Homo sapiens: one gene and its partners. The protein of the gene in region 2 interacts with the protein of the main gene of each other region in a biochemical or structural test. Each region holds a gene or a part of one and is shown on either strand. Other genes may lie near its edges. The genes, in order: MAPK9, ELK1 and FLI1.

Region 1 (3,750 bases), on a different chromosome or scaffold from region 2:
AACACTCAGTGTGTCAGGAAAGTCAGGCTTCCTTGGGGTCTGTTTCCTTATTTGTTCAATGCAGACATTACCAGCTTTGCCTATTCCACAGGGTGCTTGTTAGGCTTGGGATAATTAGGATTACATGTGGGAAAGTGACACTGAAACTGTACTCGCTATACAAGAGAATGCAAGTGAGAAAAAAATAGCATCAACAGCAGCTTAAAAAAGTGCTCACTGAGGCATGTCTTAGAAAAATGAACTTACATCACCATGAAATAACCTAGGGAACTGGTACATGAACTCAGTTCTTCCAAAATGTTATACTTCCAAAAGACCCGCTCAGGAAATGTGTTTCTGGCATTCAATTCACTAGCAAATTCTCCTTCCTACTCCTGGTTCATACATATTGTCAAATCAGAATTATGCCCACATTTTATTTACCTATTTAGCCAAAATGTGAAAACTGTCTCACACCTTTTCCTTCTGCCATATATACATATATAAATAAAGACAGAGTCTCGCTCTGTCGCCCAGGCTGGAGTGCAGTGGCATGATCTCGGCTGACTGCAACCTCCACCTCCCGGGCTCAAGTAATTCTCGTGCCTCAGCCTCCCAAGTAGCTGGGACTACAGGCACCTGCCATAACGGTCGGCTAATTTTTGTTATTTTTAGTAGAGATGGGGTTTCGCCATGTTGGCCAGGCTGGTCTGGAATTCCTGGCCTCAAGTGATCTGCCTGCCTCGGCCTCCCAAAGTGCTGGGATTATAGGTGTGAGCCACTGCGCCCAGCCCACCTTATACTTTTGATACCTCTTCTGCCTGCTCACTCCCACAGACTTCCCAGGATGCACCCACCCAGCATCTGTGTGCCATTTGCCACACAGCAACCATCTGGGCTCCCGGCTACACTAAGCCTGCTCAGCTCTAGACCCTAACCCCCCTGACTCAAGGACAAGCTCCCTCAACTCTTCCTTCTCCAACATCATCGACATTTTGCACTCTACCAATACATTCCACCACGTTGGTAAATGATGGTGTTTTCTCCTATGTTAACACAGTAGCTGCTTTCCTTTGGCCCTACCTATCGCTTTATTTCTTATTCCTATTTGCAGCAAAAACTTCCATAAAGAGCTGTCGGTCGGGCTCAGTGGCTCACACCTGTAATCCCGGCACTTTGGGAGGCCGAGGCAGGTGGATCACAAGGTCAGGTGTTCAAGACCAGCCTGGCCAAGACGGTGAAACCCTGGCCCTACTAAAAATACAAAAATTAGCCAGGCGTGGTGGCGGGCGCCTGTAATCCCAGCTACTCGGGAGGCTGAGGCAGAAGAATCGCTTGAACCCAGGAGGTAGAGGTTGCAGTGAGCTGAGATCGCATCGCTGCCCTCCAGCCTGGGCAATGGAGTGAGACTCTGTCTCAAAGGAAAAAAAAAAAAAAAAAAGGAAAGAAAAAAGAGCTGTCTACACTTGTGTCTCTAATTCCCAGCCTCTCATTTTCTCTCAAACATACTCCCATCAGGCTTTCTTCCCTCCACTCCATAAATGCTGTGCCCATCATGGCTGCCAGCAGCCATCACAAGGCCCAGGGGCCAATCCCCCGTCCTCATCTCCTCATGTGAATGAGCCTCCCTCAGTCACCACACTCTAGGAGGAGGGGTCACGTGAGTGCCTTCTCCATTTCCTTCCCTATTCCCTTTGTCCCTCCACCTCAAGGGGGCTAAGTCCCGGGTCCTGGTCTCTTCCTCCCCTGCAAGTGCTCGCTACCAGTCCTAGGCTTCAAGGCTACCGACAGACGGATGACACCCACTTTGATCTCTCTATCCCAGACCTTGCCCCTAAATTCCACTGTCTAACAGACATCTCCAAACCCTAGCAAGGCTCCTTGAAGGGTCCAGCTTCAAAGCAGAGTACAAGCCCATCTCCCCGGCCACACCCCTACCCGCCTGCTGGGGGCCTCCACCTCTCCTCTGGATGATGGCAGCCTCTGCTCTGTTCTCCTGCTCTGCCCTGCCCTTGACGATCCACCCTCAATTCAGCAGCTGGGAGGAGCCTCTTTGCATCTCAGTCAGACTAGGCACCCAGAAATGGGCAGGTGAGAGAAATATCTGCTGGGTTAATGATAAAGGACTAGAAATTAAACCAGTTGTGAGAGGAGACCCACAGATTCCCCGAGAGGACTCCACCCCAGCATCCTACAGGTGGGAGGGATGGGGGACAGATGAGAGGGACGGGGGAAGGGGAACAATAATTCCGACAAGCCCAGTGGACCCTGTTGTCTAACTCTCGTGAAGCTGCAGGCAGACCACAGGTCTATTTTACAGAAGGGGAAACCAAGGCTCAGAGAGGCCCTAAATTTCTCAAGGATGCATGGCTGCCAAGGGGAGGAGTCTGAGCTGGGGCCCGAGGTGGCCGGGCTAAAGCTTTCTCTTTCTCATAGACCACCGCAGGGACAGGAGTTCCTTTTCTACCCTGGGTCGCAAATTAAAGCAAATCTCTGAGACCCTCAGTCTGATTTCTGCAACTTTTTTCTATCTCCCAAATTTCAATCTAATATTTGAAAGAGTTGGCAAAATTTTCTTTAGAAAATGATGTTAAACTCTGTGTGGCTTTTGGGAATAACATTAGGTAACCTTATATATAACACTATTAATTACTGACATTAATGTTCATATGTATAGCAGGAATTTTAATTTTACTTACTAAAATGCACCAAAAAGTACTCACATTTTTCATTTTTGTACTTTTTGAAGAAAACATTTTGTAATAAAACAAGGAATGGCACAAAATGAGTAAGAATTGAGACAAACTGAACATTAAGTAGATATTTCTAAATTATTAGTCTTTTAATTTTTCAACTTTTCCCTTTTTAATTAAGTTTACTTGCAAAATAAAGACGTCCTTATTTATAGGTTGCAACAAGTGAATCTGAGATGAGGCTATGGAAACTGCTAGAAAATTTAGTAGAACAAATAAAATAACTTGACATATTATATAATCTATGATATAGAAAATGTAAAGAAAGGTAAATAAAATGAGAGAAATAAAAATATTTTCACTTTAAGTTTGCACTGTGAAGAATTTATAAGGAGACCACTTTGATAAAATTATTAAAATCTGAAATTATTTTCCTAAGATACATACAAAACACTGACTATGGAGCTTGATTTCCTTAAAAGCAACCATCAATCTGCCCAAGGATGGAGACCAATTTAAACTTTCATAACGAAAACAAAGTCAAAGACTAATGAAAAACTAAGTGGTTAAAACACAAATGAAAAAGGGAAGATGTGAAGAACCATGTTAGGGTAAAAAATACTGAGGATGGAAGAATGGCAAATGAGGAAAGAAGGCTATTGTAACAATTAGAGTAGTTATTCTCCTTTCTGCTGTATCTCTAACATGACTTGCTGACTACAGTATGAGTTTATCTCTTTCATTTTACATTTATTTTGACTTCCCCAGTGTGTCACAAAATAACCCACTAGACAGATTTTTAAAAAAAATTCTACAAAATGTCAGCACAGTAACAAACAAGAAAGTTTAACATATTGTTCCTCACAAAATTTTCATTTTAATCTCTTTCACTTAGGTCCTTTGTAATGTGCTTCAGTTCTTACTTTGGGGGAAAATATTTCAATGCATACCAGTAACTAACAAAATAGTACTTAATTAAAGCACACAAGCACACTAGCCTATTAAATTTAGATAGCATCTTTCCTAGTTAAATTAACGGAATAAACTAAATAATACAGTATTTTCATTTAAATATCAG
Region 2 (3,750 bases):
TCTCAGCATGTCCTTCAAAGAACAGGATCCTCCCTGTCACCCCATTACTGCTTTCTTTCCTGAGAGCAAACTGGAAATAAACATGAGCTTCCTGTTCAATTATACAAGTCACAAAGCCATGAAGTGTCCGATTAGAGAGTCCTGTCACCAGAGACCTCACTGAATTTGTTTTGCAGGCAGGCTTGTTTCAGAAGTCCAAAGAGTTCAGAGTGACTCCTGGTGGCAAAGACAGGCAATTTTACCAGTTCTTCTTTCAGCTGCAACAGAACCTATCAGCTGAGTGAAAGGTGACGGTGGGCTTCCAGCTTCAACAGCACACAGGGCTTTGTATTTTGTTATTTCTCCCACTTGACCCCTCATAAGAGTTCTAGTAATCTGCCTTGCTTAGATATGTTTACTTCTTTCCATCTCCTTCACTTAGCAAGCATTTGGTGAGTGCATACTGTGGGCCAGGTGCTGCGGATACAGTCGAGAACGCAACAGACAACAATCCCTGCTCCAGAGGAGCTCACATCTTAGCAGGAAAGGCAGATGAGAAAAAAGGCAAACATGTACAAGAGTGCGTCAGATGGTGGTAAGGGTTATGGGAAAAAAATCAAGCAGGGGAGAGCTGTTACTTTTACATGGAGAGTCAGGGGAGAGTAGTCGCCAAGGAGGGGACAACTGGGCAGAGACCAAAAGGAGGTGAAGGAACTGAGCTCGTGAGTATCTGAGAGCAGCAAGCCAGGTGGAAGCGGCAGCCGGTGTGAAGGGCCCAAGGCTGGAGAGTGCCTGGCAGGTGACATGGGGAGAGGAGGCTGACATGGGTTCGGGGGAGAGGAGGGAGGCAGCGGGAGAGGAGAACAGAGTGACGGGGGCCAGACTGAGCCAGGCTTTTTCGGGTGCTGTCAGGATGTTGAGTGAGACAGGAGCCACAAGAGGGTTGTGAACAGAGGGATGACAGGCTGTGACTGAGATTTCAACAGGATCCCCCTGGCGGTTGTGAGAAGAACAGACTGTTGGGGCTGAAGAAGCCACTGCGGTAGATGATGGTGGTAGCAGTGGGGCTGGCGAGAAGTAGCTGGGGTCTGGAGAAAGCCTGAACACAGAATAGGACTTGCTGACAGATAGCATGCCCGGGGGAGGTGAGAGAAGGGTCCAGGGTGAGTCTAGGTTTGTGGCCTAATCACCCACAAAGACAGCATTGTGGTCAGCTGAGGTGGGAGCCTTGCAGGAGAGTAAGTTTTGAGGGGGGTCACACCAGTTTTGGAGATGGTCAGTTTCAGAGGCCTGTCAGACATCTACGGGTATGCTATGAATACATTTTAATAATTTAAAAATGCAAGCCAGGCATACGATCCTTACCGTGGGCTGCACACTCTTTGAATCATTTAACTCATTGAATCCTCAAACCACCGTTAAAGGGTGGGGATTATCATTTCCCCCATTTTCCACATGAGGCAATGGAGGTACAGAGAAGTAACCTGCCCCAAGTCACACAGCTGGAAGTTGGCAGAGCCGGAATTCAAAACCTAAGTGGTTTGGCTCTAGTGAGCAATCGCCTTACACCACCAGTTCTCCATGAAGAGAAACAGAGAAGGGTAAGATCCTAGAGAGTGACAGGAATGCTGTTTTTACACAGGGTGTACAAGGAGTTCTTCCCCAAGGAAGTGACACCTGGCCTGAAGGAGGGGAGGTAGCAAGCCAGGCTGCCCTCTGTGGGGGAGGGCCTTCAGGCGGAGCGAACGGCGTGTACAAAGGCTCTGAGGCAGCCACCCTGAACTATCTACCGTTCCCGAGACAGTTCCAACCTCTGAGGGTAAGCACGGGCTGCTCTCCCCGCAGGGAGAGCTCTTCCCTCACTTCATGGACTCAATTACACAATCATCGCATTCCAGGAAGAATTCATTCTTCCTCTGCGTGATCAAAGGTGCCAAATAACCTGCCTGCCCTTGCAAATCTGTTCTTCTTTCTGAGTCTTCAGCCTTATGTTCCTCTGCCCCTGTTCTGGCTATTCTGGCTCAAGGTTACCCTGAGCAAGTTACTCAGCCTCTCTTTGCTTGTTTCCTCATCTGTAAAATGGGGATATTTTACTCTCAAAGTCAAATATTCTCAAAAGTACACCTACCCTCCAAGGCTTCTGTGAGGATTAACTGTGTCAATTCTGTAAAATACTTCTGTAAAAGACTTGAGGGGTTGACTTTTTTTTTTGTTTTTACAAGTAGCATTGTTAGGAACTTCTTTTTTATACATGTGCCTTTGTATAGTATATTCCAAGCACCATAGTGTTTAACAATGAATATTTACTGAAATAACACTACCCAGGTGCCAGAAAATCAAATCACTCTTAGAAACATCTTTTATGCCTGTGCCTTTAGGAGAGTGTATTATGCACACCACAGTGGTTATTTTTTGGGTTTTTTTTCGGAGACGGGGATCTCACTATGTTGCACAGGCTGGCCTGGAACTCCTGGGCTCAAGTGATCCTCCCACCTCAGCCTCTGTGCCCAGCTATACACCACAGTTTTGTGAACACATTCTTTCAATGCAACAACACAGTCCTTATTCACATATACAACTAGCACTCTTAGAAACAGCTTTTATACCTGTGCCTCCATAGAGCATATTACATACCTCAGTTTTGTGAACATATCCTTTTGAAAAGGAGGAAAATCCTTATTCATATATAAACTGGCATTCTTAGAAATATCTTTGACACATGTATCTTTTTGTAGTGCATTCCAGGCACCACCGTGTGGTAAACATCCTTTGGGGGTTGGTATTTGAACAGAAAAGTGCCTCTGATGTGTGGCAGATACTCCACAGATATTAGCTATTAGCTAGTGTGTCATCCTTCTCCCCCTGCCCCTGCAATCCTATCCTATGTATCACCTGCACTATCTGGCTCCCATCACCTGTGTGACCTCACCTTCTACCCTTCCCCGCACTCTGCTCCAGCCACACTGGCCGCCTTGATGTTCCTTGAACATGGCAGGCACCATCCCACCTCAGGGCCTCTGAACTGGCACTTCCTTCTGCCTGGTATGCTCTTCCCGTAGACATTAAGGCTCTCTCCGTCTCTACCGTGAGGCCCTAATTCAAGAGTCACCTTCCCTATGCCTAAGATTTCAACCACCCCCAATACTCGATTCCTACCTGCCCTATTTCATTATTTCTTCTCAGCATTTGTCTATTATGCTAATTTTACTTATTTATTTTGTTCACATAGTCTGTCTCCCCAGCTTGGGTTTTTTTTTTTTTTTTTTTGAGACAGAGTCTCGCTCTGTCACCCATGCTGGAGTGCATGGTGCAATCTTGGCTCACTGCAACCTCCGCCTCCTGGGTTCAAGCAATTCTCCTGCCTCAGCCTCCCAAGTAACTGGGATTACAGGCGCACGCCGCCACACCCAGCTAATTTTTTTGTATTTTAGTAGAGATGGGGTTTCACCGTGATGCCCAGGCTGGTCTTGAACTCCTGAGCTCAGGCAATCCACCCACCTCAGCCTCCCAAAGTGCTAGGATTACTGGTGTTAGCCACCGTGCCCAGCCTCCCCAACTTTTAATAAATGTCAGCTCCACAAGCACAAATATTTCGCCCTGTTTCGTTCCTTGCCATATTCCAGCACCTAGAAGAGTGCCTGGTACTCACAAGGGGCTCAGTAAAGGTTGGTTGCAGGAACAGTCCCAACTAATTAGCTCTCATATCCCTTCTTCTTCCTCATGTGACCCCTACACTGGTGTCTCAAATTATCTTTTTCCCATTTATTCATG
Region 3 (3,750 bases), on a different chromosome or scaffold from region 2:
CTTTGGTCCTGCTGCTGCTGGAGTGGCTGAGCAGCGGGCACTGGGTGTGACAGGGTGGCACCTCCCCCAAGTATGCTGGAGGTGCGTGATGCTGGGCTGGAGGGCATGCAGAGTGTGTTTGCCAGCCAGCTTCAGGGCGCCAGGTGGCCATGGGTGGGACTTCACCCCTCCAGACAGCTGCCCATCACCAGTGCTGCAAAATACCAGGTGCTGATCAAGTTCTGTAGTTCTAGGCTAAGTTGGATGATCTGCTTTCTCTCTTGTGAATGTCCATACTGCTTCCACAGTGAGCTTGGGGCCAGGGATGCAAAATGCCACAGGGCCACCACCTCTCCATCAGGTGGAAGTTCCTGGACTCCATTCCTTCTCCAAGTAGCAACCAGCTCTTTTGCATGTGTGCTTGATAGTGAAGCTTAACACAGAAGACCTGAGTCCTGTTTCCACCTTGACTAGCTGTGTGACTGAGCCAGGCAGCCCCTGTCTCGATTTCATTAACCATGAAAAGGAGATAGTAACCCTTGCTGTGCCTATCCTGGGGGCTTATTGGGAAATTCGAATACAACAGTGCATAAGAAATGCATTAAACTTATATATGTGCAATAGAAATAACTCACTGAGAAAGCATTTGCTGCTCACCTCCTGTAAGAATACTAGGGTTAAACAAAGAAAGTGATGACTATCCTCTCAAGAACTCAGCAGTCAGGGGGCGCAGGCCAAGCTGAGAATCAGACAGTGTGACAAGTCCTTATAACCAAGGCGGGCACCAAGTGCTGGGGGACTGTGGGGAAGGCGTGTCTGGGAGCATGGACTAGGTTGCCTGGCAGTGAGGCTAAAAATGTAAGCTGCAGTCAGACAGGGAGGGCTGCGATGCCACACAAAGAAGCTCAGACCTTGGTCTGAGGGCACTGAGGCGCTGCCAGCAGTTTTTACGTACTGTAATTATAGGATTGGGCTGGGATTTGAAGAAAACTCTGGTGGCAGCATGGAGGATAGAAAGAGGGCATCATCATCATCATGACACCAAGTGTGGCCGGGCAATGGCTCCATGCTCATCATCGGAGCCCTGGGCTCATGATTCAGAGGCTGAGGCAAGCTGCCCTGTCAGTGCTGACCGCCTCTGGGCTTTGTCTCTTCTCACTTTAGGGAGTCTCCGGTGGACTGCAGCGTTAGCAAATGCAGCAAGCTGGTGGGCGGAGGCGAGTCCAACCCCATGAACTACAACAGCTATATGGACGAGAAGAATGGCCCCCCTCCTCCCAACATGACCACCAACGAGAGGAGAGTCATCGTCCCCGCAGGTAATTCGAGAACCAGGCTGCCTGGGCGCCATTCACTTCCCCACTCTCTGGGGGGGCAGGGAGCATCTAAACCTTTATCTGATACTCTATTCCCTGTGGAATTGCAAAATGGAGAAAGCTGCACGCCAGCCGGGAGTGGTGGCTCGCGCCTGTAATCCCAGCACTTTGAGAGGCCAAGACGGGTGAATCACTTGTCAGGAGTTCAAGACCAGCCTAGCCAACGTGGTGAAACCTCATCTCTACTAAAAAAAAAAAAAAATACAAAAATTAGCCAGGTGTGGTAGTGGACGCTTATATTCCCAGCTACTCAGGGGGCTGAAGCAGGAGACTCGCTTTAACCGGGAAGGCGGAGGTTGCAGGGAGCCAAGATCACACCACTGCACTCCAGCCTGGGTGATGGAATGAGACTCTGTCTCAAAAAAAAAAAAAAAAAAAAAAAGCTGCACATTTTACCTGACTTCCTAGCTGCCCTTTAAGGCAGTATCCCAGATGTCACCTGATGTGTGGGTGCTAGAAGCCCCACCCTTAAACAGACCACATCACAGACTCTACATCAATGGCCTGGTCCTCAAGGACGGGCTGCTCAGAGAGCAGAGGCAAGGCCGCCTCCACCCAAAAGGAATCCCGTGAGCTCTGGATGTGGGCATCCCTGCCTGTGAGGAGGAGGTCAGCTGCAGAGGCCAGTCCTTCCCTCCAGGCTCGTACTTCCCGGCATCTACCAGGTTCCACCTTTCCAAAATTACAGCCAGCTCTTTCAGTTTTAAAATAGAAAGAACTATATTTAACTAATGGAGTGCCTTAACATGTGTGCCACAAGTTATGTCATTAGGTAAAAATAGCCTCTTTTTCCTAGGTGTTGGTGCTGTTGGTCCCAGAAAATAAAATCATCGTTCAGTCCTTCAGTCCATTGGCTGGACACTCCACCCCAGCTAGCACCAGCAAGCTCAGCTGCCTGCACAAGAAGGGTGTTTACAAACTGCCACGTGTAGAACTGGTGCCAGGTAGAAGGGGCAAGGATGTCCAAATCTTAAGCAAAGTGATTACAGGGCAGGGATTAAACCTGATCTTACCAAAATAACTTTACCAGAGAGGCAAAACTCCTTCCATTTGTAAAAGCATAAATGTAGTTGCCTCTGAAGTCAAAAGGTTAGACATCTCTTTGAGGTAGTCCGAAGGCATCTGCTTGTAGGTCTAAAGGCAGAAATGTTAAGGGCTGCCTCCTGCCTTGGCCCGTGGTGTTTGTTTTCCCTGGGAAGCTGCATCTCACCATATCCCTGGATTACAGCTGCCTCCCTGTGCTCTGGGCCAAATTCAAGAAGGTGTGAGCAAGAGTGAGGCAGCAGACGGGTGGGGCTTGTAGAAATTTCTCTGTACCCTTTAGGACTTAGAAATGACTCCTAAAGCAATTCTAAGTTTGCTCTTCCACAAGCATCTGACCTAACAAAGGAAGAGGAAGAATCACTTCCATTTATTGAGTGCTTTCTAGGTGCCAGGCACCACGTAAATTGCTTTATCTCCATGGCATTACTTAAAACACCTGTCACAGGAGACCAGCTAGTAATGTTTAGCCCAGGTGTATCGTCTCCCTCCTCACTGAAAGCAGACAATGAAACTGTATTAGAACTGACAGGTGGGAATCTCTTTGTACAGCCCAAAGCAAAGCTGAGCCTCACTGGGTCTTCACTCAAATGGTTTCAAACTCCCCTGCTTCAGTCAAACAGCTCCCAGCCTGGGAGGGAAAGCTTGCTGGACTGAAGGGTTTGGGGATCTGAGATTGTCTTTGAACCAACCTTTGGCACCATCTCATTTTGGTCGTCATTTTGGGGAAGGAATCTTGGAAATGGGCAGAAGTGGCCAGACTGCTATGTCGACCCTCCAAACTTTCTTTGATCAGTGTTGAAATGCTTTCAAAAGGAATAGCAAAACATCAGGCTTGGCTGAGCCAAGTTACCTATAGCGCTGGTGGTGAAAATAAAACAAATTCATGTCAAATGATTTTCAAAGCACTTTCAGGCTATGGATTTACTTCATTATTTTAGCTCCGGCTAGATCTTTTAGGTCCTCACACATTTTGGCTTCCTCCAGGCCAGGCTGTGGATATGAGGGGAAGTCTCATTTGGGCAAGTCCACAAATCAAGGCAATAAAATATTAGTGGAATAACCGATTGAATTTATGATGGGATTTAAAGACAAGTATAAATGTGGGCCCTAGTTAATCACTAGCTCCATGTTCAGATGGGAAGAAACTAGGACTAAATCATCCAGGAAATGCATTTGGAAGAGTTTAGCATGATCCAGAGTTGAAGATTTATAATTCATTGTGCTGTAGAGGGAGAGTAATAATATTGTTGCAGAGCCCAAAGCAAGGGAGGAAATAATAAAATAAATAAAATATATGGTGTAAAATTGAATTTGAGGCCTTGGATACTAAAAGTGAGGAACTGGGAGAAGT

Evidence for each region.
Region 1: of the proteins of ELK1 (region 2) and MAPK9, one has a biochemical effect on the other in vitro, tested with the Homo sapiens proteins (2 studies listed by BioGRID).
Region 3: the proteins of ELK1 (region 2) and FLI1 form a complex in vitro, tested with the Homo sapiens proteins (one study listed by BioGRID).

What each region holds. Positions count from the first base shown.
Region 1 is NC_000005.10:180,243,377-180,247,126, forward strand, and holds part of MAPK9 (mitogen-activated protein kinase 9), read right to left. Parts: exon of another isoform or gene 2,644-3,750; intron 1-2,643. UniProt on the Homo sapiens protein: Serine/threonine-protein kinase involved in various processes such as cell proliferation, differentiation, migration, transformation and programmed cell death.
Region 2 is NC_000023.11:47,643,934-47,647,683, forward strand, and holds part of ELK1 (ETS domain-containing protein Elk-1), read right to left. Parts: intron 1-3,750. UniProt on the Homo sapiens protein: Transcription factor that binds to purine-rich DNA sequences. Forms a ternary complex with SRF and the ETS and SRF motifs of the serum response element (SRE) on the promoter region of immediate early genes such as FOS and IER2.
Region 3 is NC_000011.10:128,766,975-128,770,724, forward strand, and holds part of FLI1 (Friend leukemia integration 1 transcription factor), read left to right. Parts: intron 1-1,143; coding exon 1,144-1,298; intron 1,299-3,750. UniProt on the Homo sapiens protein: Sequence-specific transcriptional activator. Recognizes the DNA sequence 5'-C[CA]GGAAGT-3'.